Homo sapiens: one gene and its partners. The protein of the gene in region 3 interacts with the protein of the main gene of each other region in a biochemical or structural test. Each region holds a gene or a part of one and is shown on either strand. Other genes may lie near its edges.

Region 1 (4,012 bases), on a different chromosome or scaffold from region 3:
TGTATATAGAAAAATGTCCAGTGAGATATATGTTAAACCTATTATGGTGGGATTAAAATTATGAGGGGGGATTTCTATTTTTCAAAAGATTCCTCCTTTTTTTTTTTTTTGAGACAGAGTCTCCGTCTGTCACCCTGGCTGGAGTGCAGTGGCACGATCTCAGGTCACTGCAACTTCCGCCTCCTGGGTTCAAGTGATTCGCCTGCCTCAGCCTCCTGAGTAGCTGAGATTACAGGAACATGCCAGCACACCTGGCTAATTTTTGTATTTTTAGTAAAGATGGGGTTTCACCATATTGGCCAGGCTGGTCTCAAACTCCTGACCCCGGGTGACCCACCCACCTCGGCCTCCCAAAGTGCTGGGATTACAGGCATGAGCCACTGCACCCGGCAATAATTCCTCTCTTTAGAGACTTAATAGTTATAGCCCCAGCCACTCTGGAGGCCGAGGCAGGAGGATTGCTTGAGCCTAGGAGTTCCAGTCCAGCCTAAGCAACAGAGCAAGACCCCATCACTAAAACAATACAAAAACAAGAATTTTAGAAATAAAAACTTAATAATTACATTTACAACCAAAAACAATGAAGATGTTTAAATCCTCATCACTAGCAACCCTGTTAAGAATCATAGTAATGACTGGGTCTGTAAGGGAGCACCGCCTGCTGAACATGGCTCAGGGCAGTATTTTCTGGACCAAGAATCAGGTCTCATGCTTTGAGACTGTCCCAGGATGTCTAGTGCCAGCTACCCCAGGCAGGTCATCTGGTGTGAATGTTGACTCTTCCTGCACCAAGTCTCAGACCTGCCCCACCCTCCTCCCCACTCTGGGTCTCCTGATCTTGGCTCACTGCAATCTCCGTCTCCCAGGTTCAAGCGATTCTCCCACCTCAGCCTCCCGAGTATCTGGGATTACAGGCGTGAGCCACCGTGCCTGGCCTACAAAACCTAGTTCTAACACAATCACTCCTTAAATATGGTGGAACACTTGAAGCTTGATATCTAGTTTGGATTCAAAAGCTTCATTTCCCATATTATGCAAAACTGGTGGTTGTGATCTCCAGAATGTACTGTTCCTCCTACTAGCTCTAATTTTTCTCCCTGACAGGTGGTCATCAGGTAAATCACAAGTGAAAAGGCCGCACCATAAGGTGTACTTAGGGCACTATTGCCGCCTAGTAGTATGAATATTTAGGAAAGAGTACTGGTCCTGTCTGTCCCTACTTCACCTATTGACTTTGGAAAAACCTATGTCTATCTTCCAGTCAAGTTGACAATATCTAAAGGCAGCTCAGTTTTTTTCTAAGAAAGGCCACATAAAATAGGCATGTTTGGTTCCTGAAACTGATAAGCAGTTCTTGGGTGATTATCACACTCAAACCTCTCTCTCTTCTTTCGAGACTAGATCGTCCTGGCCTTCTAAACGTAGGACACATTGAAAAAATGCAGGAGGGTATTGTACATGTGCTCAGACTCCACCTGCAGAGCAACCACCCGGACGATATCTTTCTCTTCCCAAAACTTCTTCAAAAAATGGCAGACCTCCGGCAGCTGGTGACGGAGCATGCGCAGCTGGTGCAGATCATCAAGAAGACGGAGTCGGATGCTGCGCTGCACCCGCTACTGCAGGAGATCTACAGGGACATGTACTGAGTTCCTTCAGATCAGCCACACCTTTTCCAGGAGTTCTGAAGCTGACAGCACTACAAAGGAGACGGGGGAGCAGCACGATTTTGCACAAATATCCACCACTTTAACCTTAGAGCTTGGACAGTCTGAGCTGTAGGTAACCGGCATATTATTCCATATCTTTGTTTTAACCAGTACTTCTAAGAGCATAGAACTCAAATGCTGGGGGTAGGTGGCTAATCTCAGGACTGGGAAGATTACGGCGAATTATGCTCAATGGTCTGATTTTAACTCACCCGATGTTAATCAATGCACATTGCTTTAGATCACATTCGTGATTTACCATTTAATTAACTGGTAACCTCAAAATTCGTGGCCTGTCTTCCCATTCACCCCGCTTTTGACTATTGTGCTCCTTTATAATTCTGAAAACTAATCAGCACTTTTTAACAATGTTTATAATCCTATAAGTCTAGATGTATCCAAAGGTGAAGTATGTAAAAAGCAGCAAAATATTTATTTCAAAGACTTCACTTCTGTTTCCTGAATCTAAAGAAAGACAACATGCTGCTTTTTAATCATAGGATGGAGAATTTTAAAGAACTGTTTGGGCCAGGCACAGTCGCTCATACTTGTAATCCCAGCACTTTGGGAGGCCGAGGCGGGTGGATCACAAGGTCAGCAGATCGAGACCATCCTGGCCAACATGGTGAAACCCTGTCTCTACTAAAAATACAAAAATTAGCCGGGTGTGGTGGCACATGCCTGTAATCCCAGCTACTCGGGAAGCTGAGGCAGGAGAATTGCTTGAACCAGGGAGTTGGAGGTTGCAGTGAGCTAAGACTGCACCACTGCACTCCAGCCTGGTGACAGAACGAGACTCTGTCTTAAAAACAAACAAACAAAAAAAAAATCTGTTAGATAAGCTATCAAAATGCAGCTGTTGTTTTGTTTTTGGCTCACTGTTTTCGTGGTTGTAACTAATATGTGGAAAGGCCCATTTCCAGGTTTGCGTAGAAGAGCCCAGAAAACAGAGTCTCAAGACCCCCGCTCTGGACTGTCATAAGCTAGCACCCGTGGTAAGCGGGACGAGACAAGCTCCCGAAGCCCGCCAGCTTCCTGCTCCACTCAGCTCCGTCCAGTCAACCTGAACCCACCCAGTCCAGCTGTCTGTGGGAATGGTGGTGTTCTTAGGGACAGACTGACACCTTACTTGTCAGTGTTCCTCCGGGCCCCATTTGGCAGCTCCCGTATCTTTTGTTATGTTGCTTTTAAAGATATGATGTTTTATTGTTTTAACTCTTGGTGACAGTAGATGCTCTCTGGAGCGCAGACGAGGCACATGTGTCTTCATAGCCTGGGCTGGGTGGGAGCCAGTCACCCTGCGGATCGAGAGAGGGGGTAGAGTCTTCTTCAAATGGCAGTTTTACTTCAAATGGCAGATTTCACAAGAGTTGGTTATTTTTTACAATGGTTTAGGTTGTTAAGTCTCCTTTGTATGTAAGGTAGTTTTTTCAACATCTAAAATTTTTGTTTTAGCCTTCAAAACCAACTTACCAACCTCAGTCCAGCTGGGAAGGCAGCGTTGATTATGGTAGTTTGTCAAGAATATATGGACCTGGAAACACTTTCTCTCTCTGTCCACCTGGTAGATAAATTGTCCTGTTGAGAATTTTTAGATCTGGACTGGAACTGCCAGGACCACCGCCTCCAGGGAGTCGCTGGGCACCTGGAGGTATCGTCGATGCCTCTCCCCCATCTTTAGAAAATTTGGCTCTTCTGAGGTCATTATTATTTTAAGAATGATTAGGATTGATAAGGGTCCCATGACCAGCATTATGAAAATGCGAGAGTGGGAAGGACACAGTGTGAGACTTCCACTAGAAAAAAGTGAAAGTTAGGGTTAGGACATCCTTTTTTAAAAATTACAAATTTAGTCCGTTTTGGTTTTTGTAATCAGGCTAGGCACAGTGGCTCACACATGGAATCCCAGCACTTTGGGAGGCCGAGGTGGGAGGATCACTTGAGCCCAGGAGTTCGAGACCAGCCTAGGCAACATAGCAAGACCCTGTCTGTACACAAAATTTAAAAATTAGTTCATCGGGGTGGCACACATCAGTAGTCCCAGCTACTCTGCAGGCTGAGGTGGGAGGATTGCTTGAACCCAGGAGGTCGAGGCTGCAGTGAGCTGTGATCTCACCACTGCATTCCAGCCTGGGTGACAGAGTTAGATTCCACCCTCTCCCACCCCGGCAAAAAAAAAAAAAAAAGATGCAATCAAAGGGGCTGTTGGCCAGCAATGGCAGCAGCAGCGGCGGGCAGTCTGCCCAAGTGTCTTAGGAACCAAAAGCAAATAAAAGTGTTTCCATATATGCCACCAGCCAAGT
Region 2 (4,012 bases), on a different chromosome or scaffold from region 3:
TCCCAAGGCTATAAATACCTCGGCTGGCGTCGGCCCTGGCCATGGAATGTCGGTCAGAACTGGGGCGAGTGGGGGTGGGCTGGTCTGCCTGGGCACCTCCCTCCGTTCCCCTGCGAGTGACCCCTGAGACTCTCTGTACCCCACTTTGGATGGAGTGGCAGCTGGATCCCACCTCTCTGTAGCAAGGGAGGCCCAGGCCACGGCCCAGCCAAGGCCCCAGAGGCACCAGAAAAAGGTCAGGCTCTGGGTTGGAACTGCACCCCACTTTCCACCAAGTATCTCCCCAGAAATCACCTGAACCCACCCCGGTGAGACGGGCGTCTCTGTATAACTCTCCCCTCTCTCCCTTTCAGTGAAAGAATTCTTAGCCAAAGCCAAAGAAGATTTTCTTAAAAAATGGGAAAGTCCCGCTCAGGTAAGGCTGCCGGGTGCAGAGCCCAGGGAGGGGTGAGCTGCTAACCCCCAGCCCCTGGCTGTGTCCCAGCAACACAGCTAGAATTTCAGAAACCCCATAGAAGGCTTCAGACCCTCCCCATTTGCTCCCTAGGTGCCCATGGGGGCTCCTGTGTGGAGACACCTGACTGCCCAATGCCAGGCACCCCCATCCCACCACCCCTCCCAACGGCCCGCCCCTGCCCCCAGCACAGCTGCCAGCAGCTTCCAGGCCCCAGGCCAGGGCCGGATCTGGCCCCTGCCACCCGCCTTAAGGAATGTGCCCTCTGCCATCTTGATTTTCCGCCCCCTGTCCTCACCCCGCTGACCCCACGTGCTCCCCGGGGCCCCCTCTGCCGGTGGCAGAGGGGATGCCCCAGACCTTAGCCAAGCAGGCCGCGGGGAGGGCGTGCCCTGAGCCTACCGACCCCTCTGCCCACAGAACACAGCCCACTTGGATCAGTTTGAACGAATCAAGACCCTCGGCACGGGCTCCTTCGGGCGGGTGATGCTGGTGAAACACAAGGAGACCGGGAACCACTATGCCATGAAGATCCTCGACAAACAGAAGGTGAGGTGGCCTGTCCTCGCTCAGGGCCTGCCTGTCAGGCCTTTGCCTGGACTGTGCCCACTCCTTAGAGTGCCCTATCCACCCGTTCACTCACTTGCTTTTTTTTGATTCAGAGTCTCGCTCTGTCGCTCAGGCTGGAGTACAGTGGCGTGATCTCGGCTCACTGCAACCTCCACCTCCCTAGTTCAAGCGATTCTCCTGCCTCAGCCTCCCGAGTAGCTGGGATTACAGGCGCCTGCCACCACACCCAGCTAATTTTTGTATTTTTAGTAGAGATGGGTTTTCGCCATGTTGGCCAGGATGGTTTCGAATTCCTGACCTCAGGTGATACACCTGCCTCAGCCTCCCAAAGTGCTGGGATTACAGGCGTGAGCCACCGCGCCTGGCCGCTTGGTTTTTTTGTGGGGGACAGGATCCTGCTCTGTTGCCCAAGCAGGAAAGTGCAGTGACGTGATCATAGCTCACTGTAGCCTCAAACTCCTGAGCTCAAGAGATCCTCCTGAGTAGCTGGGACTACAAGCGCACACTACCATGCCTGGCTAATTTTTTTTTGTTGTTTGTTTGTTTTTTGTTTTAGACAGGGGGTCTTGCTGTGTTGCCCAGGCTGGTCTTGAACTCCTGGCCTCAAGTGATCTCCTACTTCAGCCTCCCAAAGCACAGGGATTACAGGCATGAGCCACCATGCCAGGCTCACCCACTATTCCCCGAGCCCCCATAATGTGCCAGCCCCAGGGGTCAGAAGGGCCCTGTGCCGCCTTCCCAAAGCTCCCTCTCCAGGCCGGCCATGGATTCAAAGCCAGGCACTGTGACACAGGGTCAGACACCAGCCCAACAGGAGGAGAACAAGAGCACTCTTGGGGGAAGTGGTGTTTATGTGCACTTTCTTCCCGTAAATATTTTTGTGATCGGACTTTATACCAGGCACTGCTATAAAGCAGCAATGTAACTAGCAGAAATGTAACCTGAGCCACAGAAGCAATTTTAAATTTTCTGTTTGCTCCATCATAAACAGTAAAAACAGCCAAGCACGGTGGCGCACGCCTGTAGTCCCAGCTACTAGACAGGCTGAGGTGGGAGGATCACTTGAACCCAGGAGTTCAACTCCAGCCTCGACAACACAGCCAGACCCCATCTCTAAAAAAACACCCAAAGTTTGTAATTAAAAGAGAAAATGAAAGAAACAGGTGTCATTCATGAAATTCATTTTAATGACATGTTTGGGGCTTTTTTTTATGTTTTTTTTTTTTTGAGACAGAGTCTCACTCTTGTCGCCCAGGCTGGACTGCAGTGGCGTGATCTCAGCTCACTGCAACCTCCACCTCCCAGGTTCAAGTGATTCTCCTGCCTCAGCTTCCCAAGTAGCTGGGATTATGGGTGCCACCACCACGCCCAGCTAACTTTTGTATTTTTAGTAGACTTGGGGTTTCACCATGTTGGTCAGGTTGGTCTCGAACTCCTGACCTCAGGTAATCCGCCCGCCTCAGCCTTCCAAAGTGCTGGGATTACAGATGTGAGCCACCACACCTGGCCTAATGATATGTTTTAATTAAGCCAGTATATCTACAGTATTACCCTTTCCATATATTATCAATGTGAAAATATCATTAATGAAACATTTTACATTCCTTTTGTTTTTTTCCCAGTCCTCCATGACTTCGGAAATATTTCCTTTTTTTCTGTACTGAAGTATCTTTAAAATCCAGTGTCTATTGTATGCTTACAACAGTTCTCAACTCTGATGGTAAATTTTTCCTGGAAAGATAAGAAAAAGCAGGGAAGTTGAAAAAGCAGATTCACATGCCCAAGTTGTTCCAACCATGCCTGAAAGTCACCAGTACCTGCATCAAGAGTTTAATTTTTGTTTTGTTTTGTTTTGTTTTGTTTTTGAGATGGAGTTTCGCTCTTGTTGCCCAGGCTGGAGTGCAATGGCATGATCTCAGCTCACTACAACCTCTGCCTCCGGGTTTCAAGCGATTCTTGTGCTCCAGCCTCCTGAGTAGCTGGAATTACAGGCGCCGGCTACCACGCCCAGCTAATTTTTTAATTTTTTTTTTTTTTTTTTTTGAGATGGAGTCTCGCTCTGTCGCTCAGGCTGGAGTGCAGTGGCACGATCTTGGCTCACTGCAACCTCTGCCTCCCGGGTTCACGCCATTCTTCTGCCTCAGCCTCCTGAGTAGCTGGGACTACAGGCGCCCACCACCACGCCTGGCTAATTTTTTGTATTTTTAGTAGAGATGGGGTTTCACCGTGTTAGCCAGGATGGTCTCCATCTCCTGACCTTGTAATCCACCGGCCTCGGCCTCCCAAAGTGCTGGGATTACAGGCGTGAGCCACCACACCTGGCCAGTTTTTAAATATTTTTAGTAGAGACAGGGTTTCACCATTTTGGCCTGGCTGGTTGTTGTTTTTTTTTTTTTTTTTTTGAGACGGAGTCTCGCTCTGCCACCCAGGCTGGACTGCAGTGGTGTGATCTCAGCTCACTGCCAGCTCCACCTCCCGGGTTCATGCCATTCTCCTGCCTCAGCCTCCCGAGTAGCAGGGACTACAGGCGCCCGCCACCACACCCGGCTAATTTTTTGTGTTTTTAGTAGAGACGGGGTTTCACCATGTTAGCCAGGATGGTCTCGATCTCCTGACCTCGTGATCCACCTGCCTCGGCCTCTCAAAGTGCTGGGATTACAGGCGTGAGCCACCGTACCCGGCCTGGTTGTTTTGTTTTTGAGACAGGGTCTTGCTCTGTTGCCCAGGCTGAAGTGCAGTTGGGCTCAAATGATCCTCCCACCTCAGCCTCTGGAGCTGCTGGGACCATAGTCGTGCCATGCCCAGCTAATTGCTTTTGTTGTCCTTGTTGTTGTTTGTAGAGATGGGGTCTCGCTACATTGCCCAGGCTAGTCTCAAACTCCTGGGCTCAAGCGATTTACCTGCCTGGGCCTCCCAAAGTGCTGGGATTACGGGCGTGAGCCACCATGCCCAGCTGGTGTCAGTTTTTTAATTTATATTTTAGATACT
Region 3 (4,012 bases):
TAGAGTTCTCAAATCTTTCCTTTGTACTTTCCCCTCCCTGAAGCACATTCTTCCAAACAGTGGCATCTGGGTTCATGAGCCCATGTTCCATTTCCCCTGCAGTGTCTGGGGTACTGACATTTGTTGTTGAAATGCCTCCCAGTTCACCTCCAGAGGAATACTGGGCTGTGCCTGGCTCCATGACCAAGTCTCTCTGAAGCACAGCATCTCCACTGCTCAGGGACTCCTGGTCTGTGGGCATTCCAGAAGATTTTGTTCCAGTTTCTTCATTTCTGTTTCCACAGGACGAAAGGCCTTCCGTGCCCTTTACTCCACAATCAGGCAAGCTCTGAAGGCAGCTGTCTTGATCAGATACAGTTCCAGAGTCCACAATAGGTGCTGGCTCCACCTCTTCCCCTTTTCTTTCCACGCCTTTATTTTTCTTCCTACAGGAACGGTCTGTATTCTCCTCCTCAACTATGCTTGACAAATCACAGGGACTTTCAGTCTGTGCAACAGGGCTCCCTGGGCAGCACTGAGTGCTCTCAGTCTCTTCAGAAGAAGAAAGTCGCTGAGGGTCCGTGGGCTCCGGTGCACAGGGAAGAAACTGGCCATCTGTCTCTGGGGCACTGGAAGGATCCTGTGCTGTCATCATTAAGGGCATAAGACTGTCCATCTGCTTGAGGTTTGTTTTCTAGGAGGAAATGAAATACACTTTTAAAAAACTGCCTGTAGGAGAAGATGTCACTGACACCTCTGAGCAAAAATTCTGTTGGACAGAACTCACTTCTATTCTAGCTCTTCTAAGGTCACATGATAAGCGAATCTAAAAGAATACAAATAAATTTCCTCTTATTTCTGATATTACTTTCCTTTCATATCTGCCTATATACTGGGATGTTCAAAATAGATTAGGATATATGAAATATCTATTTTCTAAATTTTGAACTTATTTTAGGAAGTAGATGAAAACTGAGTCTCGCCGGGCATGGTGGCTCATGCCTGTAATCCCAGCACTTTGGGAGGCTGAGGCAGGCAGATCACCTGAGGTCAGGAGTTCGAGACCAGCCTCAACATGGAGAAACCCTGTCTCTACTAAAAATACAAAATTAGCTGGGCGTAGTGGTGCATGCCTGTAATCTCAGCTACTTGGGAGGCTGAGGCAGGAGAATTGCTTGTACCCGGGAGGCGGAGGTTGCAGTGAGCCGAGACAGCACCACTGCACTCCAGCCTGGGCAATAAGAGCAAAACTCCGTCTTAAAAAAAATAAAAATAAAAGAGTCTCAAAAACCTGATTTTTAAAAAGCTCAGTGAATATCTTCAATTGAGCTGCTAACATTAAGGTGGGCTCTCTCATTCTGAGGCCAGGCTGAAGTGCAGTGGTGTGATCACAGCTCACCGCAGCCTTGAACTCCTGGGCTCAAGTGACCCTGCCGCCTCAGCCTCTTCAGTAGCTAGGACTACAGGTGTGCACCATTGCACCTGACTAATTGTTTTATTTTTTGTAGAGACGGGGTCTCACTATGTTGCCCAGGCTGTTCTCCAACACCTGAGCCTATGGGATCCTCCTACCTTGGTCTCCCAAAGTGCTGGGATTATAGGGCCTACACCACTGTGTCCCACCTATATTTTTCATTGTCTTCAGAAGGGCAGAGTCTACTTACACCCTGCCTCATATATACAAGTAAAAACAAATCCTAGCTCTTTTCCATTACAAGGTGCAGCCAATGTGCCTGTGCCCTAAATACTTACTGAGTTCAGTGTCCTTTAATCCCCAAAATATGTTCCAACCAATCTAACTTAACCATCGAGTTATGGGGTCATAATTTCAGGAACAGTGGCATGGCAGATATTCTTTCACCTTTTGATAAAATCAGAACATATTAAATATAAAATAAATGAGAACATATACCTATATACTGTCAGAGTATATTATGGATACTATATGTAATCTCAAAAATGGATTTTGCAACTTTAAAGTATTTAAAAAATATAAACAGATATAACCAACAGCATGGGAATGATTAAGAAAATCAAGGTTCATAAAACTGATGGAAGAAATACTAGCCATTATTAACTATGAGGACCATATTGCAATTAGAAAAAAATTATTAATCTAAGTTTATAAATATGCAAAAATCCCATGTGCATGCAGCAAGGTTTAAAATGGAGAAAAACAAATACAGGTGATCTTTAGTGATTTTACCTTTATATCAAAATTTCAAAAATTCTTATAAAAATATTTTCTCAACACCTAAAATCTATTTTTCCAAACATCTGGTTTGCTCGCCATTCATTCATTACCTGATCTACTGCAATAATATGCATACCTACTGCCATCCATCCTCTCATTCACCTACTCACTCAGTGAATATATTGGGCACTTACAGGGTTCCATCATCAGACCATTCCTATCTACCTACTGAGCCTATTGTAAAAGTTTATATGTACAAGTGTAAAATGTGTCATGCTTGTTAAAGTCTTTCTAGTAGAGTGTACAAGCAAAATGGACTTTCACTAAAAGCTTCTGTGTTAGGCTCCTTAAGAGTATTCAAAATTAGCTTATTTCCAGTCCTGCTGAGAGTACGACAGTCTCCTAAAAATCAGGAAATGAAGTCATTAAATTTAATAAATGGTAAACATTATAAAACAGAAATCTGGCGAAACAAGTAGTGTTGCCTAAAGAAAGTAGCACATGTATGTTCCCACAGTTTTAATTTCTCGTATTTGCCTGCCAACCATTTCCATATCTTGGCAGGTAGCTTTGGTACCTGCAAAACTATATTTTCAAGTGAACTACCATTCACCTAGTAAAAAGAGCTCTAAGGAAAAACCTGATTGCCTAGAAGTCCATTCAGAGGAAAATGAAATGTCACGTGCTCTGGAACAAACACAATTCTAAAACACAAAAGTGGGAGCATCACATAACCCTATGGAATTTCTTGGCTTGCTGGTCTCAAATAATGCATGCTCCCAAAGAAGCCTCTGGCATTGAGCTGACCTTAAATGAAATTACTGTCCAGTGGTTTCCAAATCAAATCAGCTCTGAAATAAACTGGGTGGAAAAATTACCTAAACACAGCCTTTCAGATGTTATGCCCAAGAGAGATGTACACATATGACGTTTATGTTATTCGTAATAAATGCTAACAGGGAGTCTGTAATGTTTTTATGTCTGGCAACAACTTTATCTTGAAGACTTGAGTGGATTATAAAATCTTTTCTGTTTTTTTTAGCTATCTTTGTACCATACAACTATTGATTTAAATATAGTAACACTATATTTAAATGGTACATATCATCGCCACTAAAATAGTTGTAAAAATACTCCTGATTAAATTTGGTTCTTGTTCTTTGGCAACAATCTCAGAAACTGTTGGTTCTTTCATTTTGTAAAGTTAAGCCAAACACAGACAAATATCCTTTTATGCCAGAAATTTAGTTCTAGTTGTTGCATATTTCTGTACCTGAAATGTGTGTCTTCCATTATTCCCAAAACCAATGAAAAAAACCTCTCAGTCCCCCTACGGCTACAACCTTAATGCTAGCTCTGATCTGTAAGTGGTAACATTTAATACTGCTAATACTGCTTTACAGGTCTCAGAATCTTTGGGGAAAGTCCTTCTTTTTCTGTTTTTGAGACAAGGTCTTGCTCTGTCACCCCGGCAGGAGTGCAGTGGTGTCATCTCAGCTCACTGCAACCTCTGCCTCCCAGGCTCACATGATCTGCCTGCCTCAGACCCCCAAGTAGCTGGGACTATAGGCGTACGCCACCATGCCCAGCTAACTTCTGTAGAGCCAGAGTTTCTCCATGTTGCCCAGGCTGGTCTCAAACTCCTGAGCTCAAGTGATCCACCTGTGTTGGCCCTTCCAAAGTGCTGGGATTACAGGCATGAGCCACTGTGCCTGGCCAGGAAAGTTTTTTTTTTTTTGAGACGGAGTCTCGCTCTGTTGCCCAGGCTAGAGTGCAATGGCGTGATCTCGGCTCACTGCAAGCTCCGCCTCCTGGGTTCACGCCATTCTCCTGCCTCAG
Region 4 (2,801 bases), on a different chromosome or scaffold from region 3:
CCTGGGGGTCGCAGTCCCCACCCCACCCATAATCAGGTCTCCATAATTACTTCCCTCACCCCGCCCCGTGTAATTACAGAGCCGGGCCGGGGCGGGGGTATTTATAGACAAGGCTATAGATAGCGACGAACTGGGGCGGGGGATGTGGGGGAAGGTGTTCTACGGAGAGCAAGAGGCCAGAGACTGGGACCCACCGACAAACACAGGATAGTCAGGTCCAAGGAGATGCAAATGGGGGACGCGGTTAGGGAGTCCCAGAGCCGAGGTAGAGGGGGAGCAGTGGTAAGATGAGCGAGCAGTCGACTCTGGTTGGAAGGGTCCAGGGAAATGGGGTCACTCGGGGACGTGGGCCGCCTCCGGGCGGGCAACGCCTGAGAAGCACGCAGCGCTCGGCGCCCAGTGCGCCCCCACGAGCGGGCACGGCGCCGGGTCTGCCCGGAGCCCGCAGCGCGCCCGGAGGGAAGGCCGCAGCGAGCCGAGGCGCCGCCGCCCGCTGGCGCGGAGAGGGCACGAGCGAACAAGGCGCCTTTGAGAATCCACCGCCCCCCCTTCCTCCTCCGGCCGGCCCCGCCCCCAGCCTGGCACACCCTCTCCCCCCCTCCCCGACAAAGCTTGCCTTGTGTCCCCCACCCTGCGTGCACCTCTTGGGCCCCACGGAACCTCGGCGGCGGCGTCCAGGGATCGCGTCCGGAGCTCCCAACCGGATACCCCCCCCAAGCCCGAAACGGCGCTGCCCATCCTCATACAGTCACCTCAGTCCAGAAAACAGCGATTTTAATTTGAAAGCGATTTTATGTATGAGAGGGGAAAGGAGCCCCAAAGAGAAGGGACGCAGGGCAAAAATCATGCAGCCCCAGCACCCCACCTCTGCGGGCTGGCCACCTCCCCTCAATTCTCAGGCCAGGATCCTGTGTCCCCAGCCTATGCTATGTGCCCAGGGCTGGAGGAGAGCTGTAAAGGGAAGGCCTCCGGGACTACACTCGTGAAACCATCCCCTGTGGGGGCCCTGTCCTCACAGCCCAGGCCCCTTCCCCAAGTTAGACAGGAAGAGATAGGGGGGGCGGCGGGAAGCTGGGAAGGCTAGTGCTTGGAGAGCCCTAGGGACAGGCCATTTCAGGGCCCTGCCTTTCCCAAACACCCACCTCCACCACTGGCATTTCTTAGTCAACCTGGGAAAGTACAGTACTTCTTTGAGTCTAACTGCAAGTCTCTATCCTCACAGGAAATTAAAAATAGCAGATCGGTTCCTACATCTCCACCAGCCCCTTCACCACCACCACCACCTTTTTTATATTTCAGTCTGACTGCAGAAGGAGGTGAAGTGTAAAAAGAGACTCTGGACAGTGACAGGGCCCCTCCCTCTTCCAGAGAGGCCCCCATCTGCCAGGTTTGAGAGGAGGAAGGCCTGTCAGGGCCCTACTCTCATGTCCATCAGCTTGGGAGGCCTGCCCCCCAGTATCCACCTCTGGGGGAGTTCCCCATTTCCACTCTTCAGATGGGAAGCAAAATGAGGCAAGATGAGAAGGAAGCAAGGTCCTGGAGGCAAGGCCAGTGCTTTGTGCTGGGGGAAGGACAGAGGGTGAGAAATCACCCCAAATCATGGGAGAACCCGACAAATTCAGAGACTCAAGGCCACCGAAGAGAGACAACCAGTCCTCACAGGTATCTGGGGTCCCTTCCAACTTGGGATATCAAGCAGATCCCTTGGAGGGTTTATGTTCTTGGTTCTGCCCTGTACTTCTCACCCCATCAAGGTTCTGGGAACATGGCCCCCCACCCTGCCCCAGGGCTTGGAGTCCCTCTTGGATGTGTGCTCCTCCAGTGTGAGAAGCACCACGTCTGGGTCTGAGCTCAGGCCAGTTGATGGGGAGCCTCAAGCATCTCCATGAGGAAGGTGTCGATGGGGGTGTCACCAATGAGCTTGAAGAAAAACAGATGCTCTAGACACTTAAGGCCAATGGACCGGAGGGCAGGAAGACGTAGCAGCAGCTTGGCAAACCTGGGGTGGAGGTGGGAGAAGGGGATTGAGAGCTGGAAGCACACGGGCCCTGAACACATCCTCATAGCACTCCCCACCCCCAAGGGAGCCTCAGTGCCCCCCAGCCCCATCTCACCGTCCCTGCTGCTCAGGGTACTTCTGTTTGCAGTAGGTCTCCAGTGATGCATACACTTTCTCCCGCAGGACCTCCACCTCACTAGGGTTGGAGAGGCCCTTGGCATCTGGGATGGCAGGGAAGAGAGGAGGAAGAGAAATGAAGACAAACCAAATCAGGATGGCCATGCAGATGTGAGCCACAGGATGCCCCTTTTGGGCTGCACTTGCTTGCCCTTTACCAGAGGCCTGGCAAGGGAAGCAGGGCCCACTGGGTTTGTGGGATGGATCCGTGGATGTGGGTTTTTCCTCGGCCAGTTGGGAGATTTCCAGGTTGAGGGTCTTACTGAGGGGGATAGCTGGGTAACTTAGGAGTCTCGGAGAAGAGGAGGCTCCAAGGTTGCCTTGGCCTTGAGAGACAAAGGTAATCCTCCTCTTACCTGGATTAAACAGAATGATTGCCCTCAGGCAGCCAAGCTCTGTCTTGTCCATCCTCATGTCACGCATTTTGGACACTAGCTCTGTCAGCACCCTGGAGAGGGACCTGCAGGTCACTCAAAGGTCACAGCTCAGCCAGCCTTGGACACGGACCAGCCTATAGCCCCACCCCCTCTATCTACATGCCAGCCTAGCCGAGGGCCACTGACCGATCAAAGATGGCTCCTACTCCTGCTGAATGGGCTGAGTTGCGGTGCACGTGAAGACCTGT

What was found.
Region 1: the proteins of AKAP13 (region 3) and PPARA form a complex in vitro, tested with the Homo sapiens proteins (one study listed by BioGRID).
Region 2: of the proteins of AKAP13 (region 3) and PRKACA, one has a biochemical effect on the other in vitro, tested with the Homo sapiens proteins (one study listed by BioGRID).
Region 4: the proteins of AKAP13 (region 3) and RXRB form a complex in vitro, tested with the Homo sapiens proteins (one study listed by BioGRID).

What each region holds. Positions count from the first base shown.
Region 1 is NC_000022.11:46,233,732-46,237,743, forward strand, and holds part of PPARA (peroxisome proliferator-activated receptor alpha), read left to right. Parts: intron 1-1,401; coding exon 1,402-1,649; 3' UTR 1,650-4,012. UniProt on the Homo sapiens protein: Ligand-activated transcription factor. Key regulator of lipid metabolism. Activated by the endogenous ligand 1-palmitoyl-2-oleoyl-sn-glycerol-3-phosphocholine (16:0/18:1-GPC). Activated by oleylethanolamide, a naturally occurring lipid that regulates satiety.
Region 2 is NC_000019.10:14,103,751-14,107,762, reverse strand, and holds part of PRKACA (cAMP-dependent protein kinase catalytic subunit alpha), read left to right. Parts: coding exon of another isoform or gene 1-52; intron 53-353; coding exon 354-415; intron 416-874; coding exon 875-1,003; intron 1,004-4,012.
Region 3 is NC_000015.10:85,575,591-85,579,602, reverse strand, and holds part of AKAP13 (A-kinase anchor protein 13), read right to left. Parts: intron 674-4,012; coding exon 1-673. UniProt on the Homo sapiens protein: Scaffold protein that plays an important role in assembling signaling complexes downstream of several types of G protein-coupled receptors.
Region 4 is NC_000006.12:33,192,831-33,195,631, forward strand, and holds the end of RXRB (retinoic acid receptor RXR-beta), read right to left. Parts: coding exon 2,740-2,801; intron 2,637-2,739; coding exon of another isoform or gene 2,625-2,636; coding exon 2,533-2,624; intron 2,221-2,532; coding exon 2,115-2,220; intron 2,000-2,114; coding exon 1,852-1,999; 3' UTR 758-1,851; downstream 1-757. UniProt on the Homo sapiens protein: Receptor for retinoic acid. Retinoic acid receptors bind as heterodimers to their target response elements in response to their ligands, all-trans or 9-cis retinoic acid, and regulate gene expression in various biological processes.